2 linked regions of the Homo sapiens genome follow. The protein of the gene in region 2 interacts with the protein of the main gene of each other region in a biochemical or structural test. Each region holds a gene or a part of one and is shown on either strand. Other genes may lie near its edges.

Region 1 (3,500 bases), on a different chromosome or scaffold from region 2:
GCCCCAGCTACTCGGGAGGCTGAGGCAGAAGAATCACTTGAACTCGGGAGGCAGAGGTTGTGGTGAGCCGAGATTGCACCACTGCACTTCAGCCTGGCAACAGAGTGAGACTCCATCTCAAAAAAAAAAAAAAAAAAAAAAGAAGAGAAAAGAAGATAAAAGAAAAGAAAAGGTAGGTTGGGGCAGTAACCCAGGGATGGGTGACTCACAGTGGGAAGGGAAGGAGGGAAGGGTGGTGAGGAAGTGCTGGGAAGGTGGATGCAGCAGGACAACACACATGTGTAGGAGTCTCTGCAGAAAGGGTGCGGAATGCTGTCTAATTTAACCAGTAAACCCTGAACACCACTGTCTCCTCTATCAGGGACTCTATAATGAAACGGCCACCATGCAGAGAAGAGACAGATTCTGGTCTAAGTAGAGTTGTTACCTAGGAGCCTGGCTTGCTTCATGGTCAGCACAATAACGCTGACCAGAGTTCGGTTCCCTCGGATGTGGGATTAGACAAAGGGTATGGAAATGAAGATCATGGCACAGCAAACCAAGAGTGGAGGAGACAGGGATTTGGGTCTGTATCCCCAAGGACCTTCAAAGAAACAGTCAACAATCACCTTTCTGAAAGTAGTCAGGTACCCACTGACCACAGGGATATCGTCAGATTCCCAGTGACCTCCCTCTGGAGCTCGTTCAGCTCTGAAAGTTAGTGATGCAAAAGCTCTTCCCCCTCAGCCATCACGACGTTCATTCTCCAGTTGCAGGTTCACAGCTTTTATCTCCACAGGAGCAGTCCTTTAAGGTTGATCGCTTAGCAATGGATGACCCGAGGTGTATAACTAGTTCTTATCTCCAAGTTCAAGTCCCTGAATAGGGCCTACAGTAAATAGTCCTCTGGCTTGTTCAGTCTGCTTTAAATTCTTTACAGGTCAGATACCAATATTTGTATTGGTTCTCATAATCACAGTAGCAGTGGTCAAAACAGGTTATTTCAGGTACAAACTGAGTCGCGAAAACATACTTGACTAGTAGTGGAGCTGTGGAAGTGTGCTCTCTCCCAGGTCACGCTCAAATTATGGGCCCATGGAAGACCACCATCAGAGCGGCATGGGAGGTGTCTGAGTTTGCCACCCTTGCCTTCCCTGGGTTGGGCAGAGAGGGAGTCCCAACCAACATCCTCACAGTCACCCTCTTCTCCATCCACCTGGATGGGCCATACCTTCCAAATCCACCATATCCTAAAATGTGAAAACAAAGCAGCTCCAGGACCCACTGTCTTAACCAGGTAGCATCAGTCAGCTGGCTTGTCTGACAGAGAGATTGTGCCAATGAATTTGGCCAGTGTTGTGATCTTTTAACACAGTTTATAATACTAGCTCACAACCCCTGGCTTTGCAACTCAGTCAGAGGCACCTATGAGATGTCTTAACATAAACAAACAAATACAAAATTAAAAAGTAAAAAAATTTTTAAAACCCTAGCCAAATGTTTTGGAAATAGTTTTTATTTTTTTAGTTTATATGGAAATATTTTTTAAATGCTCACAGAATTACAAAATCTCTAAAGCTTGAGTCAAACATGAATTTCTATTTTCCACTCGCAATACACGTGGTGGATGTCTTTAGGACCAATCTTGCAGACTCTAGGCACTGGGTCTTGCCCATGTTTCAATGGCCTGTGAAATCTTTTACATGACAGAGATGACTTACTACCTCTTAGTACCCCTTAGCTGCTAAGCCTTTCCATCATGCTTCCCAGGAGCAAGACAGTAAACTTTTTCTCTGACGTTAGAGAAGAGAAAATTGCCAGCCTGAAGTCACTAGGCAGTAACCAGGGCAGTGTCAGTATTTGAACAGCCTGAGAAGCTTCCTCATTCATTCTCTTTAGCTCCCTGGGCCCCCAGTCTTTCTCATTAGAAAGAAAGAGTAGTTGCCAAGCCTAGATCTTGAACCAGTTCGAACTGAGACTTGTGTATTCCGGATATGTGATAGAGTTTAACATGAATTCTGGAAGCATGTATGAATATGGAGAAACCATCCCACCACCCTGAACACAATGTCATCAGCTGTGAGGCTGGTACAATGATACCTAGCTTATCGGGCTGATGTAAGTCCCAGGGAGAGGACAAATGCTAAAGGCAAGCTATACCCTTCTGGGAAATGCCCTCTCTCCCTGCTCATTATTCGTCTGGCAAACATCTAATTCCCCTTTGCCATGTGGCCATTCCTCTGGAAAGCATCTTTATGCCTTTCATGGGGGATTGAGTTCCTCCCCACCCCTGCTCCTACGCCCTGTATTGCTAGAAGTGGTTCCTCTACCATAAAATCTATCACATTAGGGAAAACATTTATGTGTACATATGTGTCTCTCTGGCTCTAGGTCACTCTACTGAAACATCTAGAACTGGAGGCAAAACATTTCGGTTTGTTCACCATCATACCATCCGTGGCTGGCACAGAGGAGGCACTCAGCAAATGAACAAACCAAGCTGAATGAAGAAGTAAACTTTCTGAAGACAGGAAGCTTACTGAAGCCTGGTTCATCTATATATTCCCAGAGTCTAACACCACGCTTGGCACTAATGGGCACTTGATAGATGTTTATTTTTGCATGAATGGCATGTAAATTTATTACCTAATTAAATCATTTGGAGGACAGGCAGTAAGATTCAGATGTAAATACTACTGGTTGCATGCTTCTGCTCTGCAAGACTGGCTTCTTGTGACATACTGATAATCGGTCACTGTGAATCTGGGGAGTGTCCTTGTTTTGTGCTCTTCCCCCGAGGAGGGACAGATCCTTCTGTTAGTTCAAAAGTCGGCCTATTCCTAACTGCCAGGCATCCAGGATGCCTTCTTTGCCCATCTGTCTTTCTGAAAAGCTAGTTAAAGGGCTAATCTGCTCTTAATTCCTTTAGTGTGGTCTTTGAATGAAATGGTTTGAGTGGATTTAGTCTCCAAATCAACAGAGGCAGAATAAGACTGTCTGGGACTGGCTTCAGCTCCGGGATCAGCTCTCTTTGTATCACGTGACTTAGGGCACGGATCTCAGCAGGACATCTGGGATGTCTCTCAATGAAGAGATCACACAGGGGTGTTTTCGTACCTGGCCTAGTTGTAATTCTTTGCGTAGCTTCAGGATATACTGAAGTATTTGGGAAAATAAAAGCTGCACCCCCTGCAGACAAAAGGAAAGACAAACATGTGAAGGTCTTTTGTTGTGGTTGTCGATCTCAACATCAGCGCCAAATCTACTTTTCCCTATGACAACAAAGGGAAGAGACCTCCTCAAACCTGCCTTAACAGAGCTCCGGAGAAACAGACAGGTGCACCTGTCAGATTCTCAAGATGGAAGTGAAACTTGGAGCCTTGGTGTACTCCTGTGCCCCGTTTGCTATAAAGCGTTTTGTGTTTTGATTTTATAACTTCTTGATGAAGCCCTATCTGTGTCCCCCTCAATCCCACTTCCCACTGGGCAATCTCGTTTTATTAAAAAATTATATGGTACAT
Region 2 (3,500 bases):
AAAAAAAAAGAATTTGGGAGGGACTTGGCAGGCAGTTCTGGCTTAGTGCCTCTAAGAAGGCTGCAGTCAAGATGTCAGCCAGGAAGGACTGCAGTCATCTGAAAGCTTGATTAGGATAGAGAATCTACCTCAAAAGCGGCTCTTTCACATAGCTGGCAAGTTGGTGCTGGGTCTTTGCAGAAGACCTCAATTTTTCTCCATATGGCCTCTTTAAAGGACTACTAGAGTATCTTTCACAGAATGACAGCTGTTTTTCACCCAGAACAAGGGATTCAAAGAGCAAGGAAAAAACTGTATATATGGCTTTAATGACTTTTTAATAAAGTCACTATTAATTCTATTATATTCTCTTGGTCACGGAGACCAGCCTTGAGCAACTGGACAGCAACCATACAACGGTGTGAATAACAGGAGAAAAGGAACAAGGGGCCATCTTAGAGGCTGGCTACCACACCAAGCCATAGGCTCAGAATAAATCTTCAACCTACATCATCAACAAAGGATCAGTATACAGAATTTGTCAAGAATTCTTGTAAATCAAAACAAAAAATGTAAGCAATCTAAAGAAAAACATAAAACACATGGACAAATAATTCACAAAAGGAACATAAATAGCATATAAGCATTCAAATGTACTCATTAGTACCATATAGTGCATGCTATTTACTCATCACTGGGGCATAGGCTTTAAATATTTTTCTAAAAATGGTATATTTATGTTTATCCATCCTTGTTCTTTTTCCCACTTCCCCTTGAGTCAAATGGCTAGGGATAGATGTGCAATTTGTGGCCAAAGAAGAGACAGAGGTTAATTTATCTACCATCCTGAGCCCAATCTCTGAAGTTGGCTTAGATAGACTGTCATAAACATGAAAAAAATCAGTAGATCTATAGTGACCTATTTTTAGAAGTTTAACTTCAGTTAATAAGTACTTTCTTCATTTTTACATTTTACTAAAGGGAGGCTTTTTCTGAACTGTTATGGGTACTCCAAAATGAAGAACTATAAATGTATAAATCTGCCACCTACTATCTTATGATCTGACATTCTTCCTACTGGCCCAAAGACTCTGAGACATTATCATGTTCTTAATGTCCTTTAACAGAGCAGGGCTCAAACTTCCTGGTCTCAGGACCTCTCTTACAGTCTTAGTTACTGAGGAACACAAAGAGCTTTTGTTTAGATGGGGTATGACCATCAAATGTATAATAAAAATGGATGTTTTAAATATATTTTAATTCATTACAAGATGAATTAAAAATGAATCTTAAATTTTAAAATGTTAAAATGACGTTTACTTTATTACTAGTTTTGTTTGTTTTCTCAGACAGTCTCACTGTCACTCAGACTGGAGTGCAACGGCATGATCGCAGTTCACTGTAGCCTCAACCTCCCAGCCTCAAGTGATCCTCCCACCTCAGCATCCTGAGTAGCTGGAACTACAGGCGCACACCACCACACTCGGATAATTTTTTTATTTTTTCTGGAGTCGGAGTCTCACTATATTCCCCAGGCTGGTCTTGAACTCCTGGGCTCAAGTGATCCTCCCACCTCAGCCTTCGAAAGTGCTGGGATTATAGGCATGAGCCACCATGTCCGGCACGACAGGTTTAAACAACACTTTTAAAAATCAGAAATAACTGTATTTCCTAAAACAAAAAAAAATTAATAAAGAGTGTCATTGTGATACATTTTAAAGATCTCTTTAACATGTGGTTTAATAGAATATGGCTGGATATATGCTTCTGCATTTAATGTTTCAATATGTTGTTTCTTTGAAGAATATAAAGAAAATCTGGCTTCATACAGCTAAGTATCTAAGAAAAGGGAAAAGCAGATTTTAATACCCTTTTCAGATCATTGTGTGGATATTTTTCTTTGATATAACACAAAAACTTAAGAAGAATATTTATTTTTTAAACATCAGTTGCAATGTGGCATCTCAAACCTTAAAAATAAACTTGACTACTCTCTCGCGTTAAAATCTATTTATTGGCTGGGAGTGGTGGTTCATGCCTGTAATACCAACACTTTGGGAGGCTGAGGTGGGCAGATCAACTGAGGTCAGGAGTTCAAGACCAGCCTGGCCAACATGGCAAAACCCCATCTCTACTAAAAATACAAAAATTAGCCAGGCATGGTAGCGTGTGCCTGTAATCCCAGCTACTTGGGAGGCTGAGGCAGAACTGCTTAAACCCAGGAGGCGGAGGTCGCGGTGAGCCAAGATTGCGCCACTGCACTCCAGTGTGGGTGACAAAGCAAGACTCCATCTCAAAAAATAAAAATAATAAAATAAAATACAATCTATTTATTATTGCTCTGTTTTGCACTTAACATCATGCATTTCTCATTTAGAATATATTGCAATAAGCTACGCAGATCTTTGAAATGTTGACATTACACAATATCAAAAAAATTCACGTTCATTAATATCACCACCAATCTCTTCAGGAAAGTCTTTAAATACTGAGAAACTGACCAGCTCATGGCAGCAAATACCAATTTTCCAAAATTCTAATTTTCATTTAAAATCTCAATTTTTATCACTGGCAACATATGTCAGTTGTTTTCCTGGAAATGACAGGCTCAATTCATTCACTTCTGAGAAAATGGCTGCCAAATACCCATGCCTAAAAACCATAGTTTTTAAGTAAAACCATAGTTTCAAGTAAAATAGTTTTCTATGAAAAAAAGCAAATTCAGCTTGGAACTCAAAAAACTGCACAAGTACTCTTCTTCCACTTTCTTCCGCAGCAGAAGCATTTTAGGCACATTTCCCACTTCATCACACAGAGCTTTAAAGATCAAAATGTAATATAGTAATTGTTACTGTTTCATAAAGGATATTAAGTGACAATGACATAGGTTTATTTTTGTTCTTTCTCTAAGTGTGTGAAAGTAAATATGCAATGACTTTTATAGTATGGCTTGGAGCCATTATCCTTTTTTTTTATTTTTTTATTTTTTTTATTTTTTTAAAGACAGGGTCTCACGCCATTGCCAAGGCTGGAGTACAATGGCACAATCATGGCTCACTGCAGCCTCGACACTCCGTGCCTCAGGCAATTCTCCCACTTCAGTCTCCTGAGTAGCTGCGACTACAGACACGCACTACCATGCCTATTTAATTTTTTTGTATTTTTTGTAGACACAGGGTTTCATCATGTTACCTAGACTAGTCCCCTACTCCTGGACTCAAGCAATCCACCCACCTCGGCCTCCCAAATGGAGTCACTCACCATCTTAATTCACGCAGAGGTGATGGCAGTTTTATCCATCATTGCTTTTGCACCATTAATATAAATGTCAGCGCAGTGAATAAGGAGAATATCAAATTAGTGTAATTATGAAAATAGTTTTAAACTTGTGCACCTCTAAAAGGGTCTCAGTGACACGGTCACTACCATCACCCCCACCCCAGCATTCTGTGGCCCACACTTTGAGAATCACTGCTTTAAGGTATTCTCATTTAGGACCCACTGACAGCAGAATCCATGAG

Evidence for each region.
Region 1: the proteins of TRIM33 (region 2) and ERG form a complex in vitro, tested with the Homo sapiens proteins (one large-scale study listed by BioGRID).

What each region holds. Positions count from the first base shown.
Region 1 is NC_000021.9:38,397,478-38,400,977, forward strand, and holds part of ERG (transcriptional regulator ERG), read right to left. Parts: intron 3,169-3,500; coding exon 3,097-3,168; coding exon of another isoform or gene 2,885-3,096; exon of another isoform or gene 2,595-2,884; intron 1-2,594. UniProt on the Homo sapiens protein: Transcriptional regulator. May participate in transcriptional regulation through the recruitment of SETDB1 histone methyltransferase and subsequent modification of local chromatin structure.
Region 2 is NC_000001.11:114,501,204-114,504,703, forward strand, and holds part of TRIM33 (E3 ubiquitin-protein ligase TRIM33), read right to left. Parts: intron 1-3,500. UniProt on the Homo sapiens protein: Acts as an E3 ubiquitin-protein ligase. Promotes SMAD4 ubiquitination, nuclear exclusion and degradation via the ubiquitin proteasome pathway. According to PubMed:16751102, does not promote a decrease in the level of endogenous SMAD4.